2 linked regions of the Homo sapiens genome follow. The protein of the gene in region 1 purifies or fractionates together with the protein of each later gene. This does not show direct contact. Each region holds a gene or a part of one and is shown in the gene's direction. Other genes may lie near its edges.

Region 1 (4,588 bases):
AACTCTCAAACTCACCTGCATGTTGGAATCACCTAGGAAAGTTGGCCAGGCGTGGTGGCTCACACCTGTAATCCCAGCACTTTGGGAGGCTGAGGTGGGCAGATCACTTGAGGCCAGGAGTTTGAGACCAGCATGGTGACGCATGTCTGTAATCCCAGCTACTCGGGTGGCTGAGGCACTAGAATCACTTGAACCCAGGAAGTGGAGGTTTCAGTGAGCCAAGATTGCGCCACTGCACTCCAGCCCTGGGTGACACAGCAAGACTCTGTCGCAAAACAAACAAAAACAACCAAAAAATGTTATTAATGCCTGAGTCCCATCCTGTGACATTCTGATTTAATTGATCTTGGTTGCAGCCTAGGTATCAGGATGTTTTAAAAGCTCCCCAGTGATTCTGTGTGACACAGAGTGTGAAAACTGCTAACTTAACTTATTTCTGTAAATATTTGGATCTAGAAAAGTACTTAGATTCAAGTTCACTTATAAGGATACTTCATGGGCAGTGCCCCCTACCTTCTGTGGTAGCTCATCAAGAGAAAGATATTTTGTAGTATTTTTCATTTGCAACAGTCTTTGGGACTTCTCATTTTCTTAAGTTATGTTATTTCTTAATCCTTGGAATGTAGAGGCATAGGCAAAGAAAGAAAAACTCAAGAAAGTACTGACATGATATTTTTTCCCCTCATAAACTACTGAACTTGCATTTTGTAGCTTCTCCATTCCACTGGGCAGAAAGGGGCTTACTGAAGTGTCCAGTCAAATAACTTACAGTCAATTATGGCTTAAAATCGAGTCCCATCTAGTTCAAAGAATTCTCAGGGCTTTCTTCTATTATAGGATAGGCCTAGTTTATCACATGCCAGGCACTGTTCTAAGCACTTTACACAAGAGTGCTCACAACATTATCTAATCCCTAGTAATGCCTACAACATCCCTATCTACTATTACTTTCCCTATTTACAGATTGGAAAAGTCGGGCACAGGGAGGGTAAGCCAGGATTACACAGGTAACCTGGCTACCTGCGTATCTAGCCACTGTGCTTGACTGTGATTGGGGGCTGGGAAGAAACAGGAAGGAAGAAAGCAGAAGAGAATGGGGTCCCTGAAGCCAGAGACTAGAGAGTTTCTGGAGGTGGAGAGCAGCATAAGCCTGATTGCCAGAGAAGCAGCCATGGAATGTGCAAAGTGGTGAGTGGGGGAGTGGGACAGTGTGTTGAGGATTAGTGGGAGGTGAGGGCTACAGTCAGGGTCGGGAGGAGTAGTCTGGCCTTAAGGAGGAGGAAAAAAAGTGACAGATTAAGGGGGTGAGTGGGGAAGGACCAAGGGCAGCCACTGCTCGCTCCAGGCAAGTGCCTGGTGATGTGTTCTGCTGCTTTGATGTTTCTGAGAGAGACTAAAGGTCCCCCTGCCAGGGTTCTTGGGGCTCTGGGGAACCCCTGCTTTCCAGCTCAATTTTAGTGTCAATTTTATGCCAGCTGCTTAAGCAAGCTTTACATAGGAAAGAAATATGAGCCGCAGCGGCATCCTTCCAGGATTTAAAGGCTCAGTCCTATTTCTTATGATCCAAGGTCTGTCATCCTTTCCTTCTCTATCCCTTAACTGCCTTCCCTTGCGTGGAGGTAAGGACAGGGTAGCTAATGGGTTAATTCGGAGACAACCACCGAGAGAAGCTTCCTAGAGCGCCCAGGAAGTGGCCTTAGTTCCCATCGAGACTTCCTGTGCCCCAGCCTCAACTTCCCTCCTATGTCTGGAGAGTGATCACTTTCACTCCCAAAGACATCCTTTGGTGATACTTACTGTGGGATTCAGAGTGGGGTGCAGAGGACGACCCTGCAAAGGCACGGACTATAAGAGAGATCTGTGCAGCTGCGCCTCAGGGGGTGTCCTGGGCCCCTGGGCATGACAGGAGGGGGACCACTTGCAGTTCTACTGGAAAATTTACCACCCTTCCAGAATCCTCTGAAGATATACAGGTCGCAACTAGAGTGAGACCCGAGTACTGCCTTGGGTCAGAATGGCTAGAGAACCGAGAAAAAACGCAGCCCTGGACGCCCAGTCTGCAGAAGACCAGACGGGGCTCCTGACCGTGAAGGTGGAGAAGGAGGAAGCCTCCGCCTTGACGGCGGAGGTGAGAGCACCCTGCAGCCCTGCTCGGGGCCCCGAACGCTCCCGCCAGCGCTTCCGAGGCTTCCGCTACCCGGAGGCTGCGGGCCCCCGCGAGGCGTTGAGCCGGCTCCGAGAACTCTGCGGACAATGGCTGCAGCCTGAGATGCACAGCAAGGAGCAGATCCTGGAGCTGCTGGTGCTGGAGCAGTTCCTGACCATCCTGCCGGGGAATCTGCAGAGCTGGGTGCGGGAGCAGCATCCAGAGAGCGGGGAGGAGGTGGTGGTGCTATTGGAGTATTTGGAGAGGCAGCTGGATGAGCCGGCGCCGCAGGTAGAAAGAACAGGTTTAGTATCTGAGCGCTGTGGTCTGTTTCCTCCTGAAATCCCAGATCGGAGCGAGGGGCATTCCTTTAAGGTCCAGGAGTTCTTCATCTCTTTTTGTACTGTGAACCTCCTTGGCAGTAAGGTGAAGTCCCTGGACTCCTTCTCAGAATTATATTTTTAAATATATAAAGAAACTATAAAGGATTACAAAAGAACACAACTATATTGACATACAGTTAGCAAAGAATTAAATTTGTATTAAAGTCATATATGTGGATTTTTATTACTGCACTAAATAATAAGACCTAGGGACAGGGCTTATAATTGGCAATTTCAAAATGGCGATAAGCATCTATTTGCCTGGTTGTAATGTGGTGTGAAAACGTGCAGGTTTTGTTGGTGACAAAGTCCTGGGTACTGCTTATGCTACCTTGATTTGTTGCTTCCATTCATAATTGAAGGAAATGTTAACTCTCTCTTAAAGACCAGTAAAAATAAGATTAGTTTTTGTCCTTTCTAAGTTCATGGACCACTTGGGAGAAAGTCCATGGACCACTGGTTATGAACCTCTGGTAGAAAGTGGGCCTATTTTTACCTCCATGTTCTTCCCTGTTTTATGAGGGACTGTTTCCTCTTTGCATCGTCCTGTGTCCCTGTGCACACAACTTCAGAGGACCTGTGTGGCCAAATCTTCTAACTGGTGAGCTGGATACCAAGGTTCTTGACTTAGGTCTATTGCACGCAAGCCCTGTAGCAGTGGGAAGTCATTGCAAATCTCTTAGCTTCATTCTTCATAAAATATGTGGGAAATTCTGAGCTGCACGTGAGACAGTAACTTGAAAACTGTAATTTAACTATCAATGTCTGGAAGGAAACCTGCTTTTAATGAGGACATAACTATGTGCCAGGCCCTGTGTTAGGTGATGTCACATACTGTGATCTTATTTACTGGTCTCCAAAACCTCATAAAGTAGAAATTATTATCCTCATTTTTCAGATTAGAAAATATATTAGTATTGAGAATTTAGCACCAGTGTCCAAAGGGTTTTCGTAAACACACAGATGTATATAATGAGGGAGCCTAGAGTAATGGTAAGAACACGGGATCTGGAGTCATTCTGTCTGAGCTCCCATCCTAGCATTTCCACTTATTAGCTGGGTGACATGGGCAAGCTGCTTAAACACTGTCCACCCTTGGCTGGGTGCAGTGGCTCACGCCTGTAATCCCAGCACTTTGGGAGGCTGAGGTGGGCGGATCACCTGAGGTCGGGAGTTCGAGACCAGCCTGACCAACATGGAGAAACCCGGTCTCTACTAAAAGTACAAAACATTAGCCGGGCGTGGTGGCACATGGCTGTAATCCCAGCTACTAGGGAGGCTGAGGCAGGAGAATTGCTTGAACCCCGGAGGCGGAAGTTGCGGTGAGGTGAGATCATGCCATTGCATTCCAGCCTGAGCAACAAGAGTGAAATTCCGTCTCAAAAAAAAAAAAACAAAAAAACCAACAACAACAAAAAAAATGCTGTCCACTCAGGAGAGAGGATCCGGGCCACATCTCCGTTTTCAGCAACTTATCATAAAAATCCAAAATAATAGCTCACAGGGTTGTTATCTATATTAATTGTGTTAATATCATAAGGCTTGTAGAAACAGTGCCTAGAAAATAGAAATCACTTGCACATGGAAAACATAGAAATGTTGGGTAGATAACTAAAAATCGTGACTTCTAGGTTCCCGTTGGTGACCAGGGGCAAGAACTGCTCTGTTGCAAGATGGCACTATTGACACAAACTCAAGGGTCTCAAAGTAGCCAGTGCCAGCCAATGAAGGCTCTGTTCAAGCATGAATCTCTGGGATCCCAGCCCTTACACGATAGAGGTGAGTATTCTCTTCTGGGTTGTATGAATTCTATAGACTTCATCCAATTTCATTTAAGGATCACCTAAAAGATCCATTTACAGTTACTTTATATACTCATCACAGAGAGCTGTATTTTAAGACTGAGACTAAGAGAAATTTCAAACAATGGTGAAAAACTTTCCTAACCAAACTAGGACATAGTAAATCTGATTTTATTAAAATTGATGTCTAGAAAGAATCGGTTTTTTAAACAACATGGTGATCTCCATTCATTAGATATATTTAGGGAGCCTTCATC
Region 2 (3,814 bases), on another chromosome or scaffold:
ACATTGCAAAGGGGCACGCAGACAGGAGTGGAGAGACTTTGTGGTCATGTGACACTCTAGCACATGCCTTTGCCTTTGTTGTTGTAAAGCTTATTTACATTTTCAACAGCTTTTTTATATTCATGAAAATATAATATACAAATAAGTTATGATTCTAAGATTTCTGTTGAATTTTCTATTTTAGTCTTCTCGGTTTTAATTATCTGATGTGCCGTCTGCTATACCCAGATAAGTCTAACTGAATGGGTAGATCTATAATCTTTGGATCCAGGGTTTGAGACTGTCTCACACTTATTTGACCGTGTGAATCAACCTTAGGATTGCAGAAGGGTGACTGATATGCTCATGGTCTTCTAAAACCTACATTTTGTTATTTTGTTTTTTTTGTTTTGTTTTGTTTTGTTTTTGTTTTGAGACAGAGTTTCCCTGTTGTTACCCAGGCTGGAGTGCAGTGGCGCGATCTTGGCTCACTGCAACCTTTACCTCCTGGGTTCAAGCGATTCTCCTGCCTCAGCCTCCTGACTAGCTGGGAGTACAGGTGCCCACCATTACGCCCAGCTAATTTTTTGTATTTTTAGTAGAGACAGGGTTTCACCATGTTGGCCAGGCTGGCCTCAAACTCCACCCACCTCGGCGTCTCAAAGTGCTGAGATTACAGGTGTGAGCCACTGCACCCGGCCTACATTTCATTATTTTGGAATTTACCACTACTTTGTTGATTCTTAATAGAGTTATGTAAGCTATGCAAGGGTTTGCTCCATGACAGGTAAGTGCAGACTGCTAATATGGTGTTACTCCATTACTCACCTTGTTGTCGCGGTGTTTGTTTTGCAGCGCACAGACTGCAAAGCTGTCATTAGCACCATGGAAGGCAGCTCCTTAGACAGCAGTGGATTTTCTCTCCACATCGGTTTGTCTGCTGCCTATCTCCCAAGAATGTGGGTTGAAAAACATCCAGAAAAAGAAAGCGAGGTATACTCCTTTTTACTTAGACATAGGAGACACTATTGAAAAAATGTTTCAGAATAAGCTGGTTAAACTTGCAAATTATTGATTGTCCTGAAAAACTAGCATTACAAAATGAACTCTCACATCTCAAGATTCTGCAACTAAAAATATTTATGATATCAAGCATGCCAAACTTCTGACGTTTCATCCAAAACCCTTATGTGGATGATTTGCCTGTACAAATTCGCATTTTTACCTTAAGCTCCACCAAAAGAACATGTGCCATCAGACATTACATTGGGTATTCTCTATAACTTGTTATAGTTTTAAAATACTGATACTGGAAAAACAAATAAGCAGTTATTTGTGGTTGGTAATAAGATCATTTTGTGTGGCTGTGACAAAGAGTCTCTTCTTAAGTTAAAATAAAAATAGAAACTTAGGCTGGGTGTGGTGGCTCACACCTGTAATCCCAGCACTTTGAGAGGCCAAGGCAGATGGATTGCTTGAGCTCAGGAGTTTGAAACCAGCCTGGGAAACATAGTGAGACCTCGTCTCTGTAAAAAATTAAGAAAAAAAATTAGCCAGGTGTGGTCATGCACACCTGTGGTTTCAGCTTCTCAGGAGGCTAAGACAGGGCGATCACTTGAGTCCAGGAGGTTGAGGTTGAACTGAGCTGTGATCGTGCCACTGCATACCAGCCTGGACAACAGAGGGAGACCCTGTCTCAAAAAAAAAAAAAAAAAAAAAGGAAACTTACATGATAGTAGTTAAATATTGGTTAATTAATAGAACAAAAGGTATGTGTGTGTATTTTAGTAATCACAATGGCATGTATATTCCTCTTAGAATAGTGTGATATATATATATATATATATATATATTTGTTCCATAATGTTGATGCTATATGATTTTTCAGATACTAATTCTTGACCTCTCAGAAGTTTATGTCAGAAGTTGGAAACTCCCAGTTCTAACATTCTACTTTTGACTGGAACTCCTAGTAGGCCATCTTGTTGTTAATTACATCTTATTCTTTCTGTTTTTATAGCATTAGTTTACCTCACTAGAAAGTTTTGGAGTTTTCTAAGTAGACCTTTTGCAGTTGAAGTGACAAGAAGCTCCAGTCCAGCACCTTCTTTCTCCTTTCAGGCTTGCATGCTTGTCTTTCAACCCGATCTCGATGTCGACCTCCCTGACCTAGCCAGTGAGAGCGAAGTGATTATTTGTCTTGACTGCTCCAGTTCCATGGAGGGTGTGACATTCTTGCAAGCCAAGCAAATCGCCTTGCATGCGCTGTCCTTGGTGGGTGAGAAGCAGAAAGTAAATATTATCCAGTTCGGCACAGGTGAGTGCGCTTTGGCCCTGGTCCTGCGTGTGCTTCCCCTACATGTGAATCACATTCTGTAGAGCTGACAACTGTGGGTACCCGACCCTGCCTGTGTGGTGAGGGGCAGCCTAGTATGAAATTGAAGAACAAGAGCTCTGGAGCTGGACCCCCTAGGTCCCGGTTCCAGCTGTACCACTCACAGGTTCTGTGTGTCACCTTGGGCGCACTACTTGAACTTCTGGTGCCTCCGTTTCCTCATCTGCGATCTGAGGATAATTGTCCCTAACTCACAGTGTTGCTGTGAGGAGGATTGAGCTAATGTATGTAAAGGATTTTTAAACTGTGCCTGTTCACAGTAAGTGAGATATAAATGCTACTGTTGTCATTAGCAACTGAACCAAATACAAAACCCTTGGTCTGTTGAGTAGGAGGTCCCAAGTCTAAGGACAAAACATTTGCCCTCAGCGCAGTCATAGAAAATCTATAAGGAATGGTCTCAGGAAGTATCGGGCCAGCACTGCTAGAAGGGAGGTAGTACCACCCTCCAGATGGGGCCCAGGGACGTCTCAGCCACCAGAAGGCAGCACCTCAGGGATGAGAGGTGCGTGGAGTGGAGTGAGGGGACAGTCTTATCCTATTGATTCTCATCCTCTGTGCAATCCAGCAGAAGACCCAGCCCCTTTTCCCCAGAGGTACAGTCTGCTGTTGCTGGGACAGAGGTCGGATAAGCATGGGGAGTGCAAAGGGCGTGAGCAGAGACTGGCCTTCCAGGGGCCAAGCTGCTCAGGCCATTGCAATGCCCTGCACATTTGCACAAGTGATCTGCATGTGCACATGGAATTTGACTCAACATTTTGCATAGTAAAGCACCACGGTTTGAATGCTCTATGATGTATCATTTAGAAAAATAGTGTGGTGAATTTTTTTTTTTTTTTTTTGAGACAGAGTCTCGCTTTGTTGCCCAGGCTGGAGTGCGGTGGTGCGATCTCAGCTCACTGCAACCTCTGCCTCCCGGCCTTAGCCTCCCCAGTGGCTGAGATTACAGTGCTCACCACCACACCCAGCTAATTTTTGTATTTTTAGCAGAGACAGGGTTTCACCCTGTTGACCAGAGCTGGTCTTGAACTCCTGACCTCAGGTGATACACCCACCTCGGCCTCCCAAAGTGCTGGGATTACAGGCATGAGCCACCGTGCCTGGCCTGTGGACAATCTTTTGTATGTTAAAATTATCAAACAGTTTTCTAAAAAGAAAGGTACACACATAAATATATAATATCCTTTACAACAGCCGTGATGGTATGAAATAACATTATTGTTTGTTAGTGCTCAAGCAAGTGAACGTGTGGAAGCAGCACCTCATGCTGATCTTATTACACAGGTTACAAGGAGCTATTTTCGTATCCTAAGCATATCACAAGCAATACCATGGCAGCAGAGTTCATCATGGTGAGTGCAAGAGGCTTCCTGTATCTCCTGGGTCTTTTCCTACCATGCTTTAAGGGGACCTCCAGGGCTTAGGCCACTCAAGCCACCA

The links.
Region 2: the proteins of ZKSCAN4 (region 1) and PARP4 purify together in Homo sapiens (affinity purification with mass spectrometry; one large-scale study listed by BioGRID and IntAct). This does not show direct contact.

The regions. Positions count from the first base shown.
Region 1 is NC_000006.12:28,249,407-28,253,994, reverse strand, and holds the start of ZKSCAN4 (zinc finger protein with KRAB and SCAN domains 4), read left to right. Parts: upstream 1-1,725; 5' UTR 1,726-2,014; coding exon 2,015-2,437; exon of another isoform or gene 2,438-2,450; intron 2,451-2,606; exon of another isoform or gene 2,607-3,130; intron 3,131-4,160; coding exon 4,161-4,308; intron 4,309-4,588. UniProt on the Homo sapiens protein: May be involved in the transcriptional activation of MDM2 and EP300 genes.
Region 2 is NC_000013.11:24,453,499-24,457,312, reverse strand, and holds part of PARP4 (protein mono-ADP-ribosyltransferase PARP4), read left to right. Parts: intron 1-834; coding exon 835-972; intron 973-2,100; coding exon 2,101-2,296; intron 2,297-3,658; coding exon 3,659-3,726; intron 3,727-3,814. UniProt on the Homo sapiens protein: Mono-ADP-ribosyltransferase that mediates mono-ADP-ribosylation of target proteins.